2 linked regions of the Homo sapiens genome follow. The protein of the gene in region 2 purifies or fractionates together with the protein of the main gene of each other region. This does not show direct contact. Each region holds a gene or a part of one and is shown on either strand. Other genes may lie near its edges.

Evidence for each region.
Region 1: the proteins of OSTN (region 2) and LRRC23 purify together in Homo sapiens (affinity purification with mass spectrometry; one large-scale study listed by BioGRID and IntAct). This does not show direct contact.

Annotation. Positions count from the first base shown.
Region 1 is NC_000012.12:6,903,305-6,907,696, reverse strand, and holds the start of LRRC23 (leucine-rich repeat-containing protein 23), read right to left. Parts: upstream 2,876-4,392; 5' UTR 2,622-2,875; intron 2,113-2,621; 5' UTR 2,064-2,112; coding exon 1,938-2,063; intron 1,853-1,937; coding exon 1,743-1,852; intron 1,289-1,742; coding exon 1,035-1,288; intron 383-1,034; coding exon 252-382; intron 1-251. UniProt on the Homo sapiens protein: Essential for sperm motility and male fertility. Plays an important role in the proper assembly of the third radial spoke (RS3) head and the bridge structure between RS2 and RS3 in the sperm flagella.
Region 2 is NC_000003.12:191,202,168-191,205,987, reverse strand, and holds part of OSTN (osteocrin precursor), read right to left. Parts: intron 1-3,820. UniProt on the Homo sapiens protein: Hormone that acts as a regulator of dendritic growth in the developing cerebral cortex in response to sensory experience. Induced in the brain following membrane depolarization and inhibits dendritic branching in neurons of the developing cortex.

The sequences.
Region 1 (4,392 bases), on a different chromosome or scaffold from region 2:
TCAATTATGGTCCATTTTGCTACTACCTGTATCAAGGTAAATTATCTCTGTATTATCCACACATTATATATTATCAGCCCTGCTAGGTGGCTGTGTATCTCCACAGCATCTGGAACCAACTATGGTCTTGATAATAATACCAGTTATTATCATAATGATGAAGTTAGTAGCTGAGCCTACTAGAAAGCAGGCATCCTGACCCCCAGGACAGTGCCCTCTTCCCTGCACCACCCTCTGACCCAGTGAGCTACCAGGTAGAGGTTCTTCAGCTTAGGAAGATTGATTCCCAGGGTGCTTTCCAGCTGGTTCCCCCGAAGCTCCACTGTGTGCAGGCTGATCAACTTCTCGGGGTCCAGACCTGTCACCATGTGGATGCTGTTCCCTGGGGAGGAGGGTTTCAAGAGCTCAAAGGGCCACTCCAAATGCTCAGCATTAGAGCCTGAATTTGGGGAGCCTCTAAATCATCCTACCATTCGCAAAGCAGGGTAGATACTGAGGAAGGCCAGCTCCAGACTTAATACCTCTGGAGCCCTGAGGCAAGTGGTGTGGTAGGTAGTCCAAGGTCCTGATGGACATATCCACCTAAGCCTTTGAAGAGTGAATGAAGCAGCTGACATGTCTAATTCCCTCTCCTTCTTCAATTCTTTGCTCAAATGTCATCTTCTCAGTGATGGTTGTCCTAACCAATCTATTTGACATTGCCACCTGTGTCCCCCATTCCTCTTACTCTGATCTATTTTTTCCAAGGCACTTGTCTCCTTTTAACATGCTACATGAATGTACTTACTGTGTTTGTTGTTACTTGTTTGTCTCTCCCAATTAGAATATAAGCTATATGAGAATAGGGACGTTCCTTGTCTTATTGGATCCTATATGGTTAGCATGTAGAACTGTCATAATGAATCATATTGCGTATCTGAATGAATGAATGAATGCAGACTGCCATGTGCCCTAGCCAAGGACCATACTGCCCACTTCTGTTGGCCTCAGGCTAGGAAGGAAAGAATCTTGTGTAGCCCATCCTAAAGACCCACCTTTGAGATTCAGGGTTTCAAGACGAGGATGAGAGATGCCTTCAGTGTCAGTAATCTGGTTATAAGCAAAACTAGCAATCTGCAGGTAGGGCAGTTCATTCATCTGGGCACTTCGCAGCCGATTGCCATCAGCCTTGAGCCAGAGCAGGTGGGTGAGGTAGTTGAGTGGAGACAGGTCTGTCAGGTGGTTCTCAGAAATATCCACATAGCGCAGATGGATGTAGGAGCGCAGCAAGTAGATGTCTGTCAGGTCCCTAGGAGATGGAAGAGGGAGAAGAAACCAGGTTTAGGGTTAAGCACCCAGTGAGGACTGGCAGAGTTGCTAAAGCAGAAGGCAATATGGAGATGGCTTATAATGGGGAGAAGAATGGGCAACAGATGGTAGGGGAGAAGAAGGGTAAGAGAAGGTAGGTGGGTTCTTAACAGTGGGCAGAGAGACCTGTGTCTGTGAAGGACAGAGAACCCATACTCTGAAAGACAAATAAGGGAATCCAGCAGGAATCCCCCCATATACTCTCAATCTCCAATTCCCCAGGTCAGCTTTGATAGGAGAAGTCTCAGAGCTCCTGAAAAGTAAATTCTGTCCTTCCCTTTCCACTAGGCATGAGAAGAGTCAAACTCTCAACCAGAACACCCAGGAATGACAGTGGGAAAGGAGATAGGGGCCCTACAGTCTCACAGTCCTCATCTGGTCCCCCCAAAACGCACCTCTCTTTAACCTCCAGCTTGACATAAGCATGAGCCAGCCCATTGCCTGTCTTACAGAGCAGAGAAAGCCCTTCCTTCATCATGTCCTCCGTGAGGGGGGTGGGCAGCCACTGCAGGTAGAAGTGGAGTAAGGTGTCTCTCCCCTGCCCAACCCCCTCCTTCAGCCCTAGGACCCCTCCTTGTCCAGGCTCTCACTTCCTCAGGGAACTCTTCCCCCTCTTTTCTGTAGTCCTCCCCCTCCTCTGTCTCCTTCTCGTCCTCTTCTTTCTCAGAATCATCCTGGTCTGGCTCAGAGTCTTCTAGATCATCTTCATCTGACATCTTTCTTCCCTCCTGAAAGCTCTGGAGTCAGATAAGCTCAGTCCTCCTCCTGAAAAAGAAGGTCTCATCAGCTTCTGCCAGCCTTCAGCTCCTTCATCGTCATTGACACGTGCCACTCCCATCACCCCCATGACTTCTGACCCACCAACTCTAGGCTTCTTTCCTTATCCCTGTGAACATCTCATTTTGATTCTCAACTCCCACTTCACACTTTCCACTGAGGACCCCCTCCCTTCAGGATGTCACCCACACCCCCAGGCCTTTCCTGTCCTTCACAGTGACTCCAGCTCTCCTCCAGCAGCCGGGTGTCCCTATTTCCTGGGCTTCCCTCTCCCCCATTCTTCCCACCTCCCCCTTAAGCCATGCTCTCCAATCTTCCCTACCAATTCCTCCTCCTCTCCTCTCAGCTCCCATTGCGCCATCCGTAATCCCTGCTCCATTCATTTCTTCTACTTTTCCCTCCCCACTGGGCCAATTTCCTTGGGCCCTCTGGTACACCAGCCTAAAGCGCAGTCTCCAACCCTCCCACTCAATTCGCCTTAGCAAAGGGGCTCAGACCCTGTTTCTGCTCAATCAGAAGCAGTTCTGGAGAGGCCCTTGGTCCCGAGAGGGAAGGACTGTTTAGCAAGCGGGCGAGGGGAAGGAGGGGTTGTGTACTGCTGTTATGGCAACGGGGACGGGGCACTTGGCAACTGCAGCTCGCCACCGTTGAGAGTAGAGCGGCGACTACCTGATGCGCAAATCAGCCGGGGAGGGGATTGATCAGTAGTTGCCTGGTTACCACGCCACTTTCCCGTCCCGGGAACCCGGATGAGGCGCGGAAGGGGCGTTGGGCCGCTAATTGGCTGAGGACAAAAAGAAGTGGGCAGGGCTGAGAAGCGAGAAGAGAGGGGGCGGGGCTAGTCATTACGTCACCCAAGACCTTAAAGGGACCGGACATCTTCAATGCAAAAGTATTGTGAATTCAGGAAAAACTCGTCCTTCGAAGCAAAAAGGGCGGGGCTGCGAGGAAAAGCAAGAAACACCAAGATAAGGGGTCTTTTCCCCTTCCCCCTATAGTTTCTGCTCATTAGTTATTTTCAGGTAGACCTTTGGAAGGTGGCTTGGTGGAGCGGAAGGAGTCCAGACCCAGATACCTTAAGAACTGGGTTGGAGTCTTGGCAGATCTGCATTTGCTAGCTAAACGTACCCAAGACTCTTTGTTATCTGTAGAATTAGCTTAACTATATCAACTGACAGGGATCCAGTATGAGTTATCCTGGACTGGTTTGATGCAAACCTTTTAGTGGGTGGAAGGCAGAAAATTCAACATCTGCCCACTAAAATACTCCTGATCCAACGTTGTTATATCAGTAATCAACAGGAACTGGCATAGCCAAACCCAGGCACTCAGGCCTGTCTGACATGTTGAAGGAGATGAAAAAGATGTTGAGATGCAATAAATATTTCTGGAGAGTTTGTGCGAGACATTATGTCAAACATCTTTACAACTGATATTTAATCTCTGCAACAGTCCTGTAAGATAGACATTTGAAAGAAGAGGATACTGAGGCTCAGGGAGGTTAAGATGACACAATTCCTGCCTGGGGAAAGGGGGATGTTACCAATCTTGTTGTGGAATCTAATGTAAATGAAACAATGAGGTAACCAGGTAAGATGGCATGTGATTCATTGTTAAATTGTGCCCACAGACTTTATATAACGGCAAAGTGGTCTGGTGGAAGATGTGGTGGGCAAGAAATCAGGAAGTATTATATTACCTCCTGCCCAGGGCAGCTTGGAGGAATGTGGTTAATAGGCAAATCTGTTTACTTGGTGTCATGGAACCAGTAGGGACTTTAAAGTCAGAGACACCAGCTTCAAAACCCATCTCTACTACTTAATACCTGTGTGTCCTTCAGCAGGTTATGAAATCTTACTGAGGTCTAATTTCCACAGTCGTGAAATGGGGATTATTAAAACGTCCACCTGTAAGGATTGTTAAGGGATTAAAAGAGATAATGTGGGTAAATCGCCTTGCACTTAGTTGACCCTTAGTAAACATTTTCCTGCTCCTCCCCACCCCTGGCCTGTGTCCTTGGTACTGGGGTTGCTGTGAGGAAAAAGAAATAATAAATATGAACACTCTGAAGAGTGAGATGTGCTATACAAATGAAAGTTATTGTATTGTTGGAGTGTGGAGAAGGGAAAAATCCATGTGGTTTGATGTAGTCAAAAGAAATGGATATGAGTTTCCTTGGCCAAGAAGAAAGAGGAAGACACATTAGATGGGAAGAAAAGTTGTGATGTAAGGGTTAGGAAGGTGTCCTTGAACATACACTTTTGTTAT
Region 2 (3,820 bases):
TTCTCGAACTCCTGACTTCAGGTGATCCACTCGCCTCAGCCTCCCAAAGTGCTGAGATTGCAGGCATGAGCCACTGTGCCAGGCCTTACTTAGGATTTTTTTCTTACTTCTCTTTTTTTTCCTATCATGCATAAGTCAGTATGCTCATTTCCCTACCCTTTCAAAACAAAAATTGTTAGAACTGAGGTTCCAGATGCCATAGAATGCAGTTATATCCTCTCTTTTAAGCTGAGAGAAAGAAAGACTTGTATGATATTTAACTTGGTTATCAGATAGAAATGTTGCAAGTAACATAAATAATATTAATAATTTAAAAATAATTGAGTACTACTCTCCTGCATTTTGAATTAACAGTCTGTCAAGACAAAATAATCATTTGAATATTTTCTCAGTAATCATGATCTTAATTTTAGTAGATATAAAATTGGTGAAGACAAAATACGAATTTTTGATAATAAGAATTTTCAGATCTCTACAACCTCCACCAGCATCACAAATGTGTGTGATATTAGTGAAGGTTTTATATACATATATATATATATATTTTTTTTTACTTGACGTGACTCCAAAAATTCTCTGTCAATGAAAGAATAAATATTCAAAAAAATATTCAAACTCTTTCAGACAATATACAGATATTCAGCATTATGCTGGGGAAAAACTCAGGCTCAGACTTGAAGGACAGGAATAAGAGGTTTAGCTGTGCTCCTTAATGGGCTAATGATCTTGAACAAGACTCTAAAATATTCAAAACTGTCTAATGAAACTGATTTTCTTCACAAAATGTAAGTTATTTAACTTTAGTTAATCTTAATTTACAAACAGCACAAATTATGGAATTGGCTTAGAGTTCAAATAAATAAGCCTTTTAAGTTTATATTTAATATTGTTTCCTAAAAATATATGAGGATATAAATTTATCTGTGAGAAAACTACACCTTTTTAATTTGTGTTTTATTATAACTAAAAACTTTACAACGGAAACTAAAATAGTATGTAGAAACACTTTGTAAACTATAATTTGAAAATATTATGTTTTTAAAACATAATTAAAAAAATTGTTTTGAAGTGATTGTTATGAAGCTGAAGGCAGATGTTTGAAGCCAATTTTTTTCTATGAACACAAAATTTACACCCAACAGTCACTTAGGGAACTTACAGCCATTCATAGGGACAATCTGCAAAACTTATATTGAAAAAACCAAAAGGATAAATTATAGTTTGTCATTCTATAGGTAATCTCGATATTTCAATAAGTGACAATATTTGAACAAAGTTTTAAAGAAGGTTTTTCTAGCTTTCTTTGATTAGGGAAGCACCCAGATGATTGAGAGACTTACCTGCTGGAAAGCAAAGATTGGGACCTCCAGCCATTGCGGTCTCTTTTTTTATTGAAACTGCGATTCCAGTCTCTGATGAATTTTGCCTCACAAACCAGATAACTGAGTGTGGCTGTGTCACTTAGAAGCTTAGAAATGGGTAAGAAGTTTGGGATCTTCATAAACTCAAATTCGAGATTTAAAATCATTGAGGATTTTCACCCAAGAGCAATTGAAAATTGCTAGTGGCTTGTAGCTTCTGTCAGTGTCACATATATCATCTATATTATCCTCATAAAAAATACATTTGAGAAATACTCGTGGTGCATAGCCATTTATTTAAACATTTCCTTCTGAAATTTGCTATTTTTAATAAATTGTGTAATGGGAATTTACTTTATGTTTTGGATTCCTGAAAAAAAGGAGCAAGCTGACATTGAGAAATTTAACATTTCCCGTTAAAAAAAAATTAAAATATCAGCTGGGCACGGTGGCTCACGCCTGTGATCCCAGCACTTTGGGATGCCGAGGTGGGCAGATCACCTGAGGTCAGGAGTTTGAGACTAGCCTGGCTAACACGGTGAAACCCCGTTTCTACTACAAATACAAAAAAATTAGCCAGGCGTGGCGGCAGGTGCCTGTAATCCCAGCCACTCTGGAGGCTGAGGCAGGAGAATCGCTTGAACCCAGGAGGCGGAGGTTGCAGTGAGCCGAGATTGCGCCATTGCACTCCAGCTTGGCCAACAAGAGCGAAACTCCATCTCAAAATAAATAAATAAATAAATAAAATATCAGGAATGTGTTCTTCCCATTTCTCAGTGCTCTTCAATTGGCAGTAGCAAATTTTCCAAAGTCACAAAGCCAGTTAGAAGAAGAGCCAGAACAACAACTTTCATTTTCAGACTCCCAGTTTCATGCTCTTTCGAGTATAACCTATTTGTGTAAGTGTAAAACCCTTTTCTATCTCCCAAACAAATTTTTTATAAAGTAATATTTTTATGGATGCAGTGTTATTAATGTGGCAGATACCTACATTTTAAAATGACTGTCCCTGAAGGCAACAAATTAGGAAGAATGATAAGTTACTAGAACATGTGTTAACTGATTTTATTCTATTTGGCACCATTTTCACTCTTTTTTAGATACTTTGCCTTCCAAAATCTTAAAATTTTATTTTTAACTATCTCTGTCTGTTTTTTTCCTCTATTTGGATTTGTGATTAATGCTACTAATCTCTTTCTTGCAAAAATTAAGAAGCCAGAAACCTACAATGCCACCTTAGAGAAAGATTCCATTATTATTTTAAACCCCCAGATCTGGATGTTTAACAAAGGGTTTAGTTGTTATAAACTCGTTTAGGGCAGAGACCATGTCATGTTCACCATTGCATCTCAGCACCTTACAGAATGCCTGGCACAGGGTCAAATGTGTGTGTTGAATGAATGCATGGAGCAGCCTTATGTGGAAGGTAAACAGGAATGCGGGGCAGATACTAATATCCCAGCTTTCTTGATACGAAAACCAAGGTAGAGGGAAGATAAGAGATTAGCCTATGTTTCTACAGCTACAGTAAAATGTGATGAAGTTCATGCTGGAATCCTGATACATCCATTAGTATTTAACATCACAGATTCTCATTCTAATGAAAGTTACATGCATCACTAACCTCAAATAATCATTCCTCTAAACTTTAGGATTTCTCCTTTTCATACATTAATCTGTACCTAAATCCCCAAATAACTAAATATTTCTTGATATAAAACTATGTTACCTAAAAATAGAAAATAACATTAGTATATAATTGTAGGCAATTCTGTTAATGAAATTTGTTGTTTAATTCTAATGCTCACTAAAGGGAAAATAGCTTTAAAACTGTACATAGGGAAAAGCTAATAGAGTTGCACATATCGGCTGGCCGTTCCATACATAGGCAACTTTTTACGCAGCATTAAAAGGCTTGCAGAGGGTAAAATTGGATAAATTAAGTTAAATATAGCATATTTAAATCTGAAGTTAATGTGGAATTTCACGACCCCCTTCACTGTTTACTCCACTTTGTACTTATATAAAATATTTGATCAAAATCTTACATCATAATTACATTAAGCTAGCCAACATAATAAATGGAAAAGTATCTCTAACATTAAACAAAGGGGCAAAAATATAAATTTTATACTACTCAAAAACAGGATGCATTTATTAGGCATACACTGCATGTCAGATACTGGGGATATAAAAGTAAAGAAGATACTTTCTCTGTCTTCCTGTTGCTCACAGCCTGGTTCAGGTGGAAACTCCTCAACCGCTTGTCCTGTCTAGGGATTTCCTTCTGCAAGAGCAGATCCTTTCTGGAATGCTTCCACTTTCTTCAAATAGAATTGTCATACATAAACTTTTGAAAAAATAACATTTGCATAGTGTTTTACTATCTTGAAATTAATCTCCTGTCATCCTTACAAGTCATGTTAGACCTATACAGAAAACATTATAATTCTATTTTT